Homo sapiens: one gene and its partner. The protein of the gene in region 2 purifies or fractionates together with the protein of the main gene of each other region. This does not show direct contact. Each region holds a gene or a part of one and is shown on either strand. Other genes may lie near its edges.

What was found. The genes of interacting proteins can lie anywhere in the genome.
Region 1: the proteins of LIMA1 (region 2) and NEXN purify together in Homo sapiens (affinity purification with mass spectrometry; 2 studies listed by BioGRID and IntAct, with this or other methods). This does not show direct contact.

Annotation. Positions count from the first base shown.
Region 1 is NC_000001.11:77,912,624-77,920,277, reverse strand, and holds part of NEXN (nexilin), read right to left. Parts: intron 4,224-7,654; 5' UTR 4,172-4,223; coding exon 4,145-4,171; intron 2,713-4,144; coding exon 2,521-2,712; intron 2,319-2,520; coding exon 2,240-2,318; intron 2,154-2,239; coding exon 2,005-2,153; intron 1-2,004. UniProt on the Homo sapiens protein: Involved in regulating cell migration through association with the actin cytoskeleton. Has an essential role in the maintenance of Z line and sarcomere integrity.
Region 2 is NC_000012.12:50,174,826-50,183,133, reverse strand, and holds the end of LIMA1 (LIM domain and actin-binding protein 1), read left to right. Parts: intron 1-1,096; coding exon 1,097-1,230; intron 1,231-5,064; coding exon 5,065-6,070; 3' UTR 6,071-7,346; downstream 7,347-8,308. UniProt on the Homo sapiens protein: Actin-binding protein involved in actin cytoskeleton regulation and dynamics. Increases the number and size of actin stress fibers and inhibits membrane ruffling. Inhibits actin filament depolymerization.

The DNA.
Region 1 (7,654 bases), on a different chromosome or scaffold from region 2:
AAATTATATTGGAGTACAGTGGAAAATGTACTTAATTAGATTTGAAAATTAAACTTTACATATTTACAAGATAAAATTACTAGGCCGGGTGCGGTGGCTCATGCCTGTAATCATTTTGGGAGGCCGAGGTGGGCAGATCATCTGAGATCAGAAGTTCAAGACCAGCCTGGCCAACATGGTGAAACCCTATCTCTACTAAAAATACAAAAAAATTAGCTGGGAGTGGTGGCATGTGCCTTAGTCCTAGCTACTCGGGAGACTGAAGCAGGATAATCGCTTGAATCCGGGAGGCAGAGGTTGCAGTGAGCCGAGATTTTGCCACTGCACTCCAGCCTGGGTGACAGAGCGAGACTCCGTCTCAATTAAAAAAAAAAAAAGAGGCCAGTGCGGTGACTCACGCCTGTAATCCCAGCACTTTGGGATGCCAAGGCAGGTAGATCACCTGAGGTCAGGAATTCAAGACCAACCTGGCCAACATGGCGAAACCCCGTCTCCACTAAAAATACAAAAATTAGCCAGACGTGGTGGCAGGCACCTGTAATCCCTGCTACTCAGGAGGTTGAGACAGGAGAATCGCTTCAACCTGGGTGGTGGAGGTTGCAGTGAGCCAAGATTGCACCGAGCCAGGACTGCGCCATTGCACTCCAGCCTGGGCGACAAGAGCAAAACTCCGTCTCAAAAAAAAAAAAAAAAAATGACTGACCTGCTGGATTTCAGACTTGCATGGGCCATGTAACCCCTTTGTTTTGGATGATTTCTCCCATTTGGAACTGCTGTATTTACCCAATACCTGTACCCCACTTTGCAAATCCAGGGTAAATACATTTCTTTAGTATGCAAGTATAGCATATGCTTTGCTTTCATCGTCACTTTTCTTTTCAGAAAGGTAATGGAAACTGAAGGCAGCATAGCAAAAAGACTGAAAGCACTTAATGTATGCCTTAAAAGACCAGCTGATATGGTTTGGCTCTGTGTCCCCACCCAAATCTCATCTTGAATTGTACTCCCATAATTCCCACGTGTTGTGGGAGGGACCTGGTGGGAGATAATTTGAATCATGGGGATGGGGGTGGTTTCCCCCATCCTGTTCTCATGGTAGTGAATAAGTCTCATGAGATCTGATGGTTTTATCAGAGGTTTCCGCTTTTGCATCTTCCTCATTTTCTCTTGCCACCGCTACGTAAGAAGTACCTTTCACCTCCCGCCATGATTCTGAGGACTCCTCAGCCAAGTGGAACTGTAAGTCCAATTAAACCTCTTTTCTTTCCCAGTCTTGTGTATGTCTTTATCAGCAGCATGAAAACAGACTAATATACCAGCATTTAAAAGTATTGTTATTAGAAGACCAGCACTTTGTTAGGTACTCATGGATAGTTTATATGTGAAATTGCCTTACATCTTTGTAAAATTCTCTAACTTGTAAAGAAAAATAAGGAATGTAGACGGGGTGAGGAATGTGGATAGAGCGGTAAGATTGTATATGATACAAATCATCTCACTATTCTACCTTAAAATAGGCATATTCTGCCCATGTCCTTCTAGGCATCTGATGTTAAATATTTTTCCTGCAGATCTTTTCAGGTTAGCTGCCTTTTTTTTTTTTTTTTTTCTTTGAGATAGGTCTTGCCCTGTCACCCAGGCTGGAGTCCAGTGGCATGATCTTGGCTCACTGCAACTTCCACCTTTCAGGCTCAAGCGAACCTCCTACCTCAGCCTTCTGAATAGCTGGGACTACAGGCACTTGCCACCATGCCCAGCTAATTTTTGTATTTTTTTGTAGAGACAGGATTTTGCCATGTTGCCCGGGCTGATGTCGAAGCGATCCACCCAGCTTGGCCTCCCAAAGTGCTGAGATTACAGAGGTGAGCCACCATTCCCAGACGGTTAGCTGCTTTTTAATAGGTTTATGTTACATTAAAATATTTTAATTAGGCAACATACTGATTAGTTTTACTTTGCACAGTTAGTTTCAGAAACAAATACGAACTTAATCTTCAGTGATACCTGTTCAGCCCTTTTTGCTAATTCACGCTGTATTTTCCTCTTTTCTAACATATCCTGCTCAATTCTGCGTTTTCGTTCCTCCTCCGTTCTCTTCCTTTGTTCCTCTTGTCTTTGTTTCTCCATTTCAGCAAATCTACCCTTCACAGTTCCTAAAAATATATGAAAAAAAAGTTTGATACTTGGTTATGTTTCTATTTTGCAATTTAATTTACTATTTACCCCTCAAGCTTCTTACCTGTTAATTTTGGAACATAAGCCTTTTCTACTTTAGAAGATACATCTTCCTCATCATCAGAAGCAAGCATTTCTTTAATCTAGATGGTTAAATAAATTAATGTGAGCACATGTCCAAAAATTAGACTAAATCACATTATATGCAGAGTTTAAATTAGGTTACAAATACAGAAAAGTATTTTAGTTATAGTTAATGTGAAATGTGGTTAATGTGAATAAATACAATTTAAATGAAAAAATGCAAACAAATATTTTCACGAGAATAAAGTAAAATAAAATAACCTCCTGCTTTCTCCTGTTCCATTCTCTCTCTCTAATATATTGTTCTTTTCTTCTTTGTTTTTCGTCTCTAGATCTCCTTTGATTTCTTTCTTCCCTGGCTCTCTGCATGGCTTCAAACTTATCCTTTACATCACCCTTGCCAAGTTTTGGTACATAGGTTTTTGGGACAGGTTTAGATGAAGAAAGCAGAATCTTCATTAGAAGAAAATAAAAAAAAGAAAGTTAACGAAAAAGATAGGAAGAAATTAGGTAAAGATAGATAAGAATAAGCAATATAAAAAATATTTATTGAAACAGAAAATAGAAATGTGTTTGAACCCTTTATTTGACCATCACAACCTGATTAGATACTTTCTAAAACCTAACTATGAAAAATGACATTACAGAAAATATGAGAGTAGAAATTTCACTGTTATATAGTAATGAAATCTCATTTTGTGGGTAGCATTCCACTGAAGCTGAAAGCCAGTAAAATATAAAAATCAAATTCTGAATTCTAATTAAAAACAACTGTCTTTTATTGTCTAACTCCATTATTAAAGATTCAGATTTGATATCACTTGCTAAAAAAGTACCCAAACTAATTTCAGTAAATTTGGTGAAGTTGAAAACAAAGCAAAAGTTTAGGCTTTAAAGTTTGAGCCTAATTCACATTTTACCCCCTTCCTGGTTTCTATATCCAATATAAGCAAAACCAAAGGCCAGTCCTTTAGTCCTTATTTGTGGCTGAGGTACACCGTGGTCTGTGTGCACAAGCTGTGATTTATGTTGTTACTATTACTTCCCATCTATAACTTCTTTAAGCCACATTAAAAATGTGTAAGAAGGCTATATCATTCTATATGGGGGCGGGCTGTAAGAGGAATTCCATATGGCAACAGCTTCACAAAGAATGGGAATCTGGTAGAAGACTGAAGAAATGATTTTCCTCCACTCTAAAACCAGAAGAGCAAATTATTTTCACCACTTTGAAAATTAAGCTGATTTCTAAATGAAATTTCAGTAAATAAAATGTGTGCCTCAGAACACCAAATCCTTTTTCCTAGTGATAATGACAATTACTTAATTAATTTGTGGCACATCCAACTTGTATTTTATAATCTATTATGTGTCATTGGCCATTTAAGGGTTAACTTTATAATTCTGAGGTGTCAGCAACTGAGCTCTTCTTACAACTCTCAGTATCTACAGTCAAGAACCAGAAGAAAGCTAAAAATTAAAATATATATATAAGGCACTAAAAAGGTTCCTTACCTAAGAGGGAATTATGTTTTCTCCTATGAGTATAGGTCAAACTTTGTTTTAATACTAAAATAATAATTTCTAAGAGTTATCAAGAACAAAATATTTAAAATTCTACTCAGAATGCTAGCTATCACATCCACTTCACTATCATTCACAAATTTACTACTCATGCTTTGTAGAATTTCCTAGAACCCAAATGAAAATACTAGCCCAAGACCAGCTGGTGAATTGTATCTCTTCTTGTTTTACATCTTGCCATTATGTTATTAATTATGAACTCCTAAATATGACCTTTCCACCAAATGACTGTCCTTTCAGCAATTCTACAGTCAACTCTACATTTCCCTCTTTTATTTTTATTTTTACTTTTGAGACTTACCTCAGCCTTTTGGGAAATATCATTCATGTTTGCTCTATGTGGTCTTGGGCTGATTATGAAGCTCTGTATATATTTGCACCTGAAAAAAATTTATATTGTATAATAAATTTTAATTTATTTGTAATATATTATGTATTTTTATAAATAGAAATAGCAGTTAATTGCCCCTCAAAAAATACTGACATGATTCAAGCAAGTAATAAATTGTGATAACCTTTAGCTCTTTTTCCCAAGATTCATGGTATAGAAAACATAAGGTGCATGATGGTAAAAGATCCCTGAAAGTTTTTGATCCAGAATAGCTTGATGAACATACTAAGTTCACTTGAAAAGAATGTGTATTCAGCAATTACTGAGTGTATTACTCTATAAATATTAACTAGCTGAAGGTAGTTGATCATGTTTTAGATCTGTATTTTTACTAATTTTTGGCTATTTCTATCAATCTTCAACTATGTAGTTTTTTGTTTGCTTGTTTTGTTTTGTTTTGTTTTTGTTTTTGTTTTGAGATGAAATCTCACTCTGTCGCCCAGGCTGGAGTGCAGTGGCGCCATCTCGCTCACTGCAAGCTCTGCCTCCCGGGTTCACACCATTCTCCCACTTCAGCCTCCCGAGTAGCTGGGACTACAGGCGTGTGCCGCCACGTCCGGCTAATTTTTTGTATTTTTAGTAGAGACGGGGTTTCACCGTGTTAGCCAGGATGGTCTCAATCTCCTGACCTCGTGATCCGCCTGCCTCGGCCTCCCAAAGTGCTGGGATTACAGGCATGAGCCACCATGCCCGGCCACCAGCTTTCTTTTTATTTATACATTTATTTTTTAGAGACAGCATCTCGCTGTGTCACCCAGGCTGAAGTACAGTGGCACAATGACAGTTCACTGTACCCTTGAACTCCTGGGCTCAAGCGATCCTCCTTCCTCAGCCTCCCAAGTAGCTGGGACTACAGGCATGCAGCACTATGCCCAGCTCTTTTTTTTTTCTCTATAGAAATGGGGTCTCACTGTGTTGTTTAGACTGGTTTTGAAACCCTGGGCTCAAGCAACTCTCCCACCTTGGCCTCCAGAAGTGCTAGGATTGCATCCGTGAGCCACTGCATCTGGCCCCCAACTTTCTTAGGTTTACAGTTTGCATGGTATATAATTTTCTAGCTATTTACTTTCACTCTATCTATGTTTTTATATGTAAAGCATATGTCTTGGACACAGCATATGTTTGGACCTTGCTTTTTACAAAAATCAATTCTGATAAAATCTGGGTTTTCTTTTTTTTTTTTTTTGAGACGTAGTTTCGCTCTTGTTGCCCAGGCTGGAGTGCAGTGGCATGATCTCGGCTCACTGCAACCTCCGCCTTCCAGTTTCAAGCGATTCTCCTGCCTCAGCCTCCTGAGTAGCTGGGATTACAGGCTCCCACCACCACACCCAGCTAATTTTTGTATTTTTAGTAGAGATGGGGTTTCACCATGTTGGCTAGGCTGGTCTCGAACTCCTGACCTTGTGATCCACCCACCTAGGCCTCCCAAAGTGCTGGGATTACAGGCGTGAGCCACCGTGCCAGGCCTAAAATCTGTTTTTTTAATTGCAGCATTTAGTTCATTAACATTTAATGTAATTATTAATATCAATGAGTTTAGGCCTATCATTTAAATATTTATTTTAGGTTTGTTTTATCTTGTTTTGTTTTTTTCTTTTGGAATTTTCTAGCCAACTTTTTTTTTAATAGAGTTTATTTTAGGTTCACAGCAAAATTGAGTAGAAGATAGAGATTTCCTGTATATGTTCTGTCCCTGCACATGCTTAGTCACCCCCATTATCAACACTGGATAACCCCATTATTACCACCTATTGGAGTGGTACATTTGTTATAAATGATGAACCTATACTGACACATCATTATCACCCAGAGTCCATAGTTTACATTAGGGTTTACTCCTGAGTTGTACATTCTGTGGGTTTTGGGTAAATGTACAATGACATGTGTCCATCATTACAGTATTGCACAGAGCAGTTTCACTGACCTAAAAGTCCTCTTTACTCCACTTACTTATGCTTTTCTCCCCCATAATTCCTGGTAACCATGATCTTTTTACTGTCTTCATAGTTTTGACTTTTCCAGAATGTCATACAGTTGGAACCACACAGTATGTAGCCTTTTCATATTGACTTTTTTCACATAGTTATGTGCATTTCAGTTTCCTCTATGTTTTTCATGGCTTGATAGCTCATTTCTTTTTAGCACTGAATAATATTCTATTACCTGCATGTACCACAGTTTATCCATTCACCTACCAAATGACATCTTGGTTGTTTCCAAGTTTTGGTGTTTATGAATAAAGTTGACATAAATATCTGTATGCAGGTTCTTGTGGACCATGATTACTGGATTATATGGTAAGAGCATATTTAGTATTATAAGAAACCACCATGTAGCTTACCACTTTGCATTCCCACCAGCAATGAATGAGAGTTCATATTGCTCCATATCCTCACCTGCATTTGATGTTGTCAGTGTTCTGAATTTTGGCCATTCTAATAGATGTGGAGTGGTATTTCATTGTCATTTTTATTTGCATTTCCTTGAATATATATTAAATGAATAAATATTAAATTAGAATTATATTAAATAATATATTAAAGCACCTTTTCATATGTTTATTTGCCATCTGTATCTTCTTCAGTGAGATGTCTCCTAAGATCTTTGTTTGGTCCATTTTTTTTTTTTTGAGATGGAGTCTTGCACTGTCACCCAGGCTAGAGAGCAGTGGCATGATCTCGGCTCACTGCAACCTCCGCCTCCCGGGTTCAAGCAATTCTCCTGTCTCAGCCTCCCGAGCAGCTGGGACTACAGGCACCTGCCACCACACCCGGCTAATTTTTGTATTTGTAGTAGAGATGGGGTTTCGCTATATTGGTCAGGCTGGTCTCAAACTCCTGACCTCAGGTGATCCGCCCACCTCGGCCTCCCAAAGTGCTGGGATTGCAGGCGTGAGCCACTGTCCCCAGCCCTTTGGTCCATTTTTTAATTGGGTTGTTTGTATTCTTATTACAGAGTTGTAAGAGTTCTTTGTGTATTTTGGATAACAGTCCTTTATCTGATATGTCACTTGCAAATATTTTCTCCAAGTCTATGGCTTATTTTTTAATTCTTTTCACAGTGTCTTTTGCAGAACAGAATTTTTTAATTTTAATGAAGTCCAGCTTATCAATTCTTTCTTTCATGAATTGTGACTTTGGTATCATAGCTAAAAAGTGAACTCCAAATCTGAGGTCATCTAGATTTCTGTCTATGTTTTCTTCTAGGAGTTTTATAGTTCTATGCTGTAAGTCTGTGATTCATTTTGAGTTAATTTTTGTGAAGAATGTAAGGTCTATTTCTAGATTCAGTTTTTTGCAAGTGGATGTCCAGTTGTTCCAGCACCATTTGTTGAAAATAATCTTTTCTCTATTTTATTGCCTTTGCTCCTTTGTCAAAGATCAGTTGATTATATTTACGTGGATCTATTTCTGGGCTCTC
Region 2 (8,308 bases):
GCCTCCCGGGTTCACGCCATTCTCCTGCCTCAGCCTCCCGAGTAACTGGGATTACACGAGTGTACCACTACGCCTGCCTAATTTTTGTATTTTTACTGGAGACGGGGTTTCACCATGTTGGCCAGGCTGGTCTCGAACTCCTGACCTCATGATCCGCCCACCTCGGCCTCCTAAAGTGCTGGGATTACAAGCATGAGCCACCGCACCTGGCCCATGTAACTATTTCTTATCATGTGAAAGCTTATAATATTTTTGGAGTTCTGGCTTTTATCAGTGCTAGAATACCAACTGTTTTATATTCTTTAGGATTGAGTTTATCAGGTAGAACCACTGTGCCCATGTTTGTTCCAACTTTACAAACAGTTCATGAATTCCCAGTCATTAATACATTAACCAGTGTGTTTCCCATTGCATTAGTTTTTCTCTCCATTGGTTTTTAGAAATATTATAGAACCTATAGCTTTAATGGGCTATGCTTCCCTCTGGTGTCCTAATAAAATACTTTGTGTCTCTTATAAATTGTTCCACTTGTGTGTCAGTTTTGACTTGTTTAAAAATAGTATGTCTAGTTGATTGAACAAATCAAGATTATAAGCAGAGCAGAATAAAAGGGGCTTTACTGAAATGTCTTTCCTAATTCCCAAAGCCAAATGCTCTTCCTCTCCTTGAAATTTATCCCCTTTAGAATCTGTCTTGTGTTTACTTGGCACTTGAATCAAACTTCTTTCTTCTGTGTGTGATAACATTTTCTCCTAATCCCTGCACTCCCCCCCCCGACCCCTTCCCCCATCCCCTGCTCCTAACATTTTTTATGTGGGTCGTGACTTGTCTAAGCCATTCTTTGTAATCCAGACGTAGCTCCACCTATCCTTGGTGGCTGCTACATTTAGAGCAGCCACACAGTTTGGGAAGGGAATATCAAGAGAGCCTCTTGGCTTTAAAGAGTCAGCTGATAGAATTGTAGCAGGTTTAGTGCTCCATGAGAATTGACTGACCAGCTAAGGGAGCCCTTAGACAAAGTAAATTCTAGGGTCCATCTCAAGACAGTGCTAACTCATCGCTGCCCATGCTAAAGTTGTCTTTTTGTTTTTCCTAGAAGTTTCAGGCACCTGCAAGAGAGACCTGCGTGGAATGTCAGAAGACAGTCTATCCAATGGAGCGTCTCTTGGCCAACCAGCAGGTGTTTCACATCAGCTGCTTCCGTTGCTCCTATTGCAACAACAAACTCAGGTAAGTCAGCCCAAAACAAGCCATCTGTCTATAACTGGAACTCTAGAGGGAGTCTTTGGCTTTTAGAGCACTGGTGCTAAAAGCTACTGTGCTAATGATATTCTGTTGAAGGCTCTTGAATAAAGTAAAAAGCATCATTTAGTGACAAGTCTTTCATACCAAATAATGATGGTGTTTGGAACTTCTTGGTGTATTGATATGTTAATTTACATGTTAGGACCGAAGCTTAAATAATATGAGTTGCAGGTAAACCCCCCTGTGACCTAATTTAATAGAATGTTTTCCCTTGGTATCACAGAATCACAAAGTTAAGAAATCTCAAGAGGTTACTTGTTTAAGCCCTTACTTGTCTTAACCACTGTATAAATGATAATAATGGCAATAATAATAGCCCCTGGAGAGCATGTCTTTTTCTCTATGTTGCCTCACTTTATTTCTGAGAAAATAGTTGTTACATATCATTTCTTCCAAGTAACTCAAAGTGCAAATATAAATGTGACAAATCGGGGAAACATTCCAAATTAACTCATTTTAATCATAGAGTCTTACAGAAGGAAGTAACCAAGATGTCACTTTCTCCAGCTTTCCTTTCTGAGCAATCCTTCCTAAAATACTCTTGAAAGATGTTTTGGCATCTGTGTGACATTTCTAGCTATTAGATAGCTCTAGCTAGACAGCTTCTCCAAACATGCAGCCAAAGTGTACCTCAGTCACTTCCACTCATTAGTTCTTCTGCTGCCCACTGTGTTAATTTTTTTCTCCAAAGCACCTTTTTTTTTTTTTTTTTTTTTGGATACAGAGTCTCACTCTGTTGCCCAGGGTGGAGTGCAGTGGCGTGATCTCAGCTCACTGCAACCTCTACCTCCTGAGTTCAAGCGATTCTCCTGCCTCAGCCTCCCAAGTAGCTGGGACTACAGGCGCCCGCCACCACACCCAGCTAATTTTTTGTATTTTTAGTAGAGAAGGGGTTTCACCATGTTAGCCAGGATGGTCTTGATCTCCTGACCTCGTGATCCACCCGCCTCGGCCTCCCAAAGTGCTGAGATTATAGGTGTGAGCCACTGTGCCTGGCTTAAAGCACCTTATTTCTTTTGTGGAAGTGCTGCCGTTTTATACCCCCTTTAACATTTGTCACTCTTCAGAATGGTTCGTAACTTAAGGGAAAAAACTTTAAAAAGATAAAACTTATCATCCTGCAAGAGACACCAAATCTCCTAAAGGCTTGTCTAGGACTGACATTAGGGAAAAACTACCTCCTGTCAACTCCTCACCATTCTTCTATTAATCAAGCTTATATCTAGGTGTGGATATAAGGATCACACCTGTAATCCTAGCATTTTGGGAGTGCCCAGGTAGGAGGATCACTTGATGCCAGAAGTTCAAGACTAGCCTGGGTAACATAGAGAGACCCCATCTGGTTTTTCTTTTTGAGATGGAGTCTCACTCTGTTGCCCAGGCTGGAGTGCAGTGGTGTGATCCTGGCTCACTGCAACCTTTGTCTCCCAGGTTCAAGCGATTCTCATGCCTCAGTCTCCTGAGTAGCTGGGATTACAGGCGGGCACCACCACGCCCAGCTAATTTCTTTCTTTTTTTTTTTTTTTCCGGAGATGGAGTCTTGCTCTGTCGCCCAGGCTGGAGTGCAGTGGGATGATGTCAGCTCACTGCAACCTCCACCTCCCAGGTTCAAGCAATTCTCCTGCCTCAGCCTCCCGAGTGGTTGGGACTACAGGCGTGTGCAACATGCCTGGCTAATTTTTGTATTTTTCATAGAGATGAGGTTTCACCATGTTAGCCACGCTGGTCTTGAACTCCTGACCTCAGTCAGTCTGCCCTCCTCGGCCTCCCAAAGTGCTGGGATTACAGGTGTGAGCAACCACGCCTGGCCAATTTTTGTATTTCTTAGTAGAGATGGGGTTTCACCATGTTGGTCAGGCTGGTCTCAAACTTCTGACCTCAAGTGATCTGCCCACCTCGGCCTCCCAAAGTGCTGGGACTGCACCTGGCCGGAGATCCCATCTCTATGAAAAATTTGGGGAGGCTGAGACTGAGGCTGGAGGATCACTTGAGCCCTGGAGGTCAAGGCTGCAGTGAGCTATGATCATACCATTGCACTCCAGCCTGGGTGACAGAGCAAGACCTCCACTCAAAAAAAAAAACAACAAAAAATGGCTGGGTGCAGTTGCTCATGCCTGTAATCCCAGCACTTTGGGAGGCCGAGGTGGGCAGATCACGAGGTCAGGAGATTGAGACCATCCTGGCTAACAAGGTGAAACCCCGTCTCTACTAAAAATACAAAATATTAGTCAGGTGTGGTGGCGAGTGCCTGTAGTCCCAGCTACTCGGGAGGCTGAGGCAGGAGAATGGCGTGAACCTGGGAGGCGGAGCTTGCAGTGAGCTGAGATCGTGTCACTGCACTCCAGCCTGGGTGACAGAGCGAGACTCTGTCTCAAAAAAAAACAAAAATGGCTGGGCGTGGTGGCTCACGCCTGTAATCCCAGCCCTTTGGGAGGCCGAGGCGGGCAGATCACGAGGTCAAGAGATCGAGACTATCCTGGCCAACATGGTGAAACCCCGTCTCTACTAAAAATACAAAAATTTGCCGTGCATGGTGGCACACACCTGTAGTCCCAACTACTCAGGAGGCTGAGGTAGGAGAATCGCTTGAACCCAGGAGGCAGAGGTTGCAGTGAGCTGAGATCATGCCACTGCACTCCAGCCTGGCGACAGAGCGAGACTCTAACAAAACAAAACAATACAAAAATTAGCCAGGCGTGGTGGCGCACTCCTGTAATCCCAGCTACTCAGGAGGCTGAGGCAGGAGAATTGCTTAAACTTGGGAGGCGGAGGTTGCAGTGAGCCAAGATTGTGCAACTGCACTCCAGCCTGGGCGACAGAGCGAGATTCTCTCAAAAAAAGAAAAGAAAAAGAAAAAAAAAATATATATATATATATGTATTTATATACCGTTAAGAATAGAGTTAATTCAAGCACAAAAGCTTGATGATGGCTACCCAGAAACACTGACTCCAAATGAATGGGGTCAGCATTCCAAAGTGGAGAAAGTTAGTTTCACTTACACAGAAATTTTAGCAAAGATTATGACATTTTTCATATAAGACCAGTGCATATACCACAGTGATTTGATTGGGTACAGATTGGTACATTCCAAGGAAGATTATCACTCGCAAAGAAGGGATAGTGATCTGAGGGGGTCTTATCTCTGGTGCCCTTTGGTCTTCATAATTTATAGTGAAAAGAAAGAGTTGCAGCTACATGCTGTGTGACCCAGGTTGCATAGCCACATTCCTCTCAAGGCTCAGAATGATTTAAAGTTTCTATTACTGTTGGTTTTTTTTTCTTTTTTTTTTTTTTTAAGACAGTCTCGCTCTATCACAGTGGCACAATCTCAGCTCACTGCAACCTCTGCCTCCCGGGTTCAAGTGATTCTCCCACTTCAGCTTCCCAAGTAGCTGAGACTACAGGCATGTGCCACCACACCCAGCTAATTTTTAAATTTTTTGTAGAGATGAATTCTCACTATGTTGGCCGGGCTGGTCTCAAACTCCTGGGCTCAAGCGATCCTCTCACCCTGGCCTCCCAAAGCGCTGGGATTACAGGCATGAGCCACTGCACCCAACCCGTGCTTTGTGTTATGATAAGAAAACAAATGTGCTAAAATGGGGGTAAGGAATTCCTGGTCACTGAAGGGCTTTTAAAGATCTTTTTCTTACTTGGCATCTTCTGAAAATACTGGAATTGCCAGATTTTAGCCTCCTGGTATAAGTGAGAATGTGAAGATTTGCTAAGTTTATGCTTTTTTTCTTTTAATGACAGTCTAGGAACATATGCATCTTTACATGGAAGAATCTATTGTAAGCCTCACTTCAATCAACTCTTTAAATCTAAGGGCAACTATGATGAAGGCTTTGGGCACAGACCACACAAGGATCTATGGGCAAGCAAAAATGAAAACGAAGAGATTTTGGAGAGACCAGCCCAGCTTGCAAATGCAAGGGAGACCCCTCACAGCCCAGGGGTAGAAGATGCCCCTATTGCTAAGGTGGGTGTCCTGGCTGCAAGTATGGAAGCCAAGGCCTCCTCTCAGCAGGAGAAGGAAGACAAGCCAGCTGAAACCAAGAAGCTGAGGATCGCCTGGCCACCCCCCACTGAACTTGGAAGTTCAGGAAGTGCCTTGGAGGAAGGGATCAAAATGTCAAAGCCCAAATGGCCTCCTGAAGACGAAATCAGCAAGCCCGAAGTTCCTGAGGATGTCGATCTAGATCTGAAGAAGCTAAGACGATCTTCTTCACTGAAGGAAAGAAGCCGCCCATTCACTGTAGCAGCTTCATTTCAAAGCACCTCTGTCAAGAGCCCAAAAACTGTGTCCCCACCTATCAGGAAAGGCTGGAGCATGTCAGAGCAGAGTGAAGAGTCTGTGGGTGGAAGAGTTGCAGAAAGGAAACAAGTGGAAAATGCCAAGGCTTCTAAGAAGAATGGGAATGTGGGAAAAACAACCTGGCAAAACAAAGAATCTAAAGGAGAGACAGGGAAGAGAAGTAAGGAAGGTCATAGTTTGGAGATGGAGAATGAGAATCTTGTAGAAAATGGTGCAGACTCCGATGAAGATGATAACAGCTTCCTCAAACAACAATCTCCACAAGAACCCAAGTCTCTGAATTGGTCGAGTTTTGTAGACAACACCTTTGCTGAAGAATTCACTACTCAGAATCAGAAATCCCAGGATGTGGAACTCTGGGAGGGAGAAGTGGTCAAAGAGCTCTCTGTGGAAGAACAGATAAAGAGAAATCGGTATTATGATGAGGATGAGGATGAAGAGTGACAAATTGCAATGATGCTGGGCCTTAAATTCATGTTAGTGTTAGCGAGCCACTGCCCTTTGTCAAAATGTGATGCACATAAGCAGGTATCCCAGCATGAAATGTAATTTACTTGGAAGTAACTTTGGAAAAGAATTCCTTCTTAAAATCAAAAACAAAACAAAAAAACACAAAAAACACATTCTAAATACTAGAGATAACTTTACTTAAATTCTTCATTTTAGCAGTGATGATATGCATAAGTGCTGTAAGGCTTGTAACTGGGGAAATATTCCACCTGATAATAGCCCAGATTCTACTGTATTCCCAAAAGGCAATATTAAGGTAGACAGATGATTAGTAGTATATTGTTACACACTATTTTGGAATTAGAGAACATACAGAAGGAATTTAGGGGCTTAAACATTACGACTGAATGCACTTTAGTATAAAGGGCACAGTTTGTATATTTTTAAATGAATACCAATTTAATTTTTTAGTATTTACCTGTTAAGAGATTATTTAGTCTTTAAATTTTTTAGGTTAATTTTCTTGCTGTGATATATATGAGGAATTTACTACTTTATGTCCTGCTCTCTAAACTACATCCTGAACTCGACGTCCTGAGGTATAATACAACAGAGCACTTTTTGAGGCAATTGAAAAACCAACCTACACTCTTCGGTGCTTAGAGAGATCTGCTGTCTCCCAAATAAGCTTTTGTATCTGCCAGTGAATTTACTGTACTCCAAATGATTGCTTTCTTTTCTGGTGATATCTGTGCTTCTCATAATTACTGAAAGCTGCAATATTTTAGTAATACCTTCGGGATCACTGTCCCCCATCTTCCGTGTTAGAGCAAAGTGAAGAGTTTAAAGGAGGAAGAAGAAAGAACTGTCTTACACCACTTGAGCTCAGACCTCTAAACCCTGTATTTCCCTTATGATGTCCCCTTTTTGAGACACTAATTTTTAAATACTTACTAGCTCTGAAATATATTGATTTTTATCACAGTATTCTCAGGGTGAAATTAAACCAACTATAGGCCTTTTTCTTGGGATGATTTTCTAGTCTTAAGGTTTGGGGACATTATAAACTTGAGTACATTTGTTGTACACAGTTGATATTCCAAATTGTATGGATGGGAGGGAGAGGTGTCTTAAGCTGTAGGCTTTTCTTTGTACTGCATTTATAGAGATTTAGCTTTAATATTTTTTAGAGATGTAAAACATTCTGCTTTCTTAGTCTTACCTAGTCTGAAACATTTTTATTCAATAAAGATTTTAATTAAAATTTGAACTTTTCAATGTTTCTCTTCCATTATTTTCTTACGTTATTACTGTCTCTCAGGATCTACTTTTGCAGTTTGGGAAGAAAAAAATGGTACCACTTTTTTAAGTTTTAGTTGAATAGAAGCATTATCAATACATCTCACCACTAGATGGTAGTGTTGGGCTGATCTTGGATTTCAATCCTCCCTGAAGGAAGACAAATTTTTCTGGAAAATTGCAGGCAACTTGGCAAGAGAATTAATGTGTGCATTCAAAATGAGGTATTTTACCAATTCGAAATCTAGTGGTGGTTTTTATTGTTTATAACACTCAACATTGAATAATTCACCTTACAATTATGCCTAGCATGCTGAATGGATTTCCAAATGTCTCTGCTGAAAATGGACTTGTTTTTCACTTTAGGCAGATGCTTTTTTTTTTTTTTTTTTTTTGTAGACCGAGTCTTGCTCTGTCGCCCAGGCTACAGTACAGTGGCACCATCTCGGCTCACTTCAACCTCCGCCTCCCCGGTTCAAGTGATTCTCCTGCCTCAGACCTCCTGAGTAGCTGGGATTACAGGCGCCTGACACCACGCCCGGCTAATTTTTGTATTTTCAGTAGACTCAGGGTTTCACCATGTTGGCCAGGCTGGTCTCAAACTCCTGACCTCGTGAACCACCCACCTCGGCTTTCCAAAGTGCTGGGATTACGTAAGGTGTAAGCCACCGTGCCTGGCGCTTTTTTCTTTTTTTTCTTTTCTTTTTTTTTTTTTTTTTTTTTGTTGTTGTTGCTGTTTTAAGATCAATGTTTGGCCGGGTGCAGTGGCTCACGCCTGTAATCCCAGCACTTTGGGAGGCCGAGGCGGGCGGATCACGAGGTCAGGAGATCAAGACCATCCTGGCTTACATGGTGAAACCCCATCTCTACTAAAAATACAAAAAATTAGCCGGGCGTGGTGGCGGGCGCCTGTAATCCCAGCTACCTGGGAGG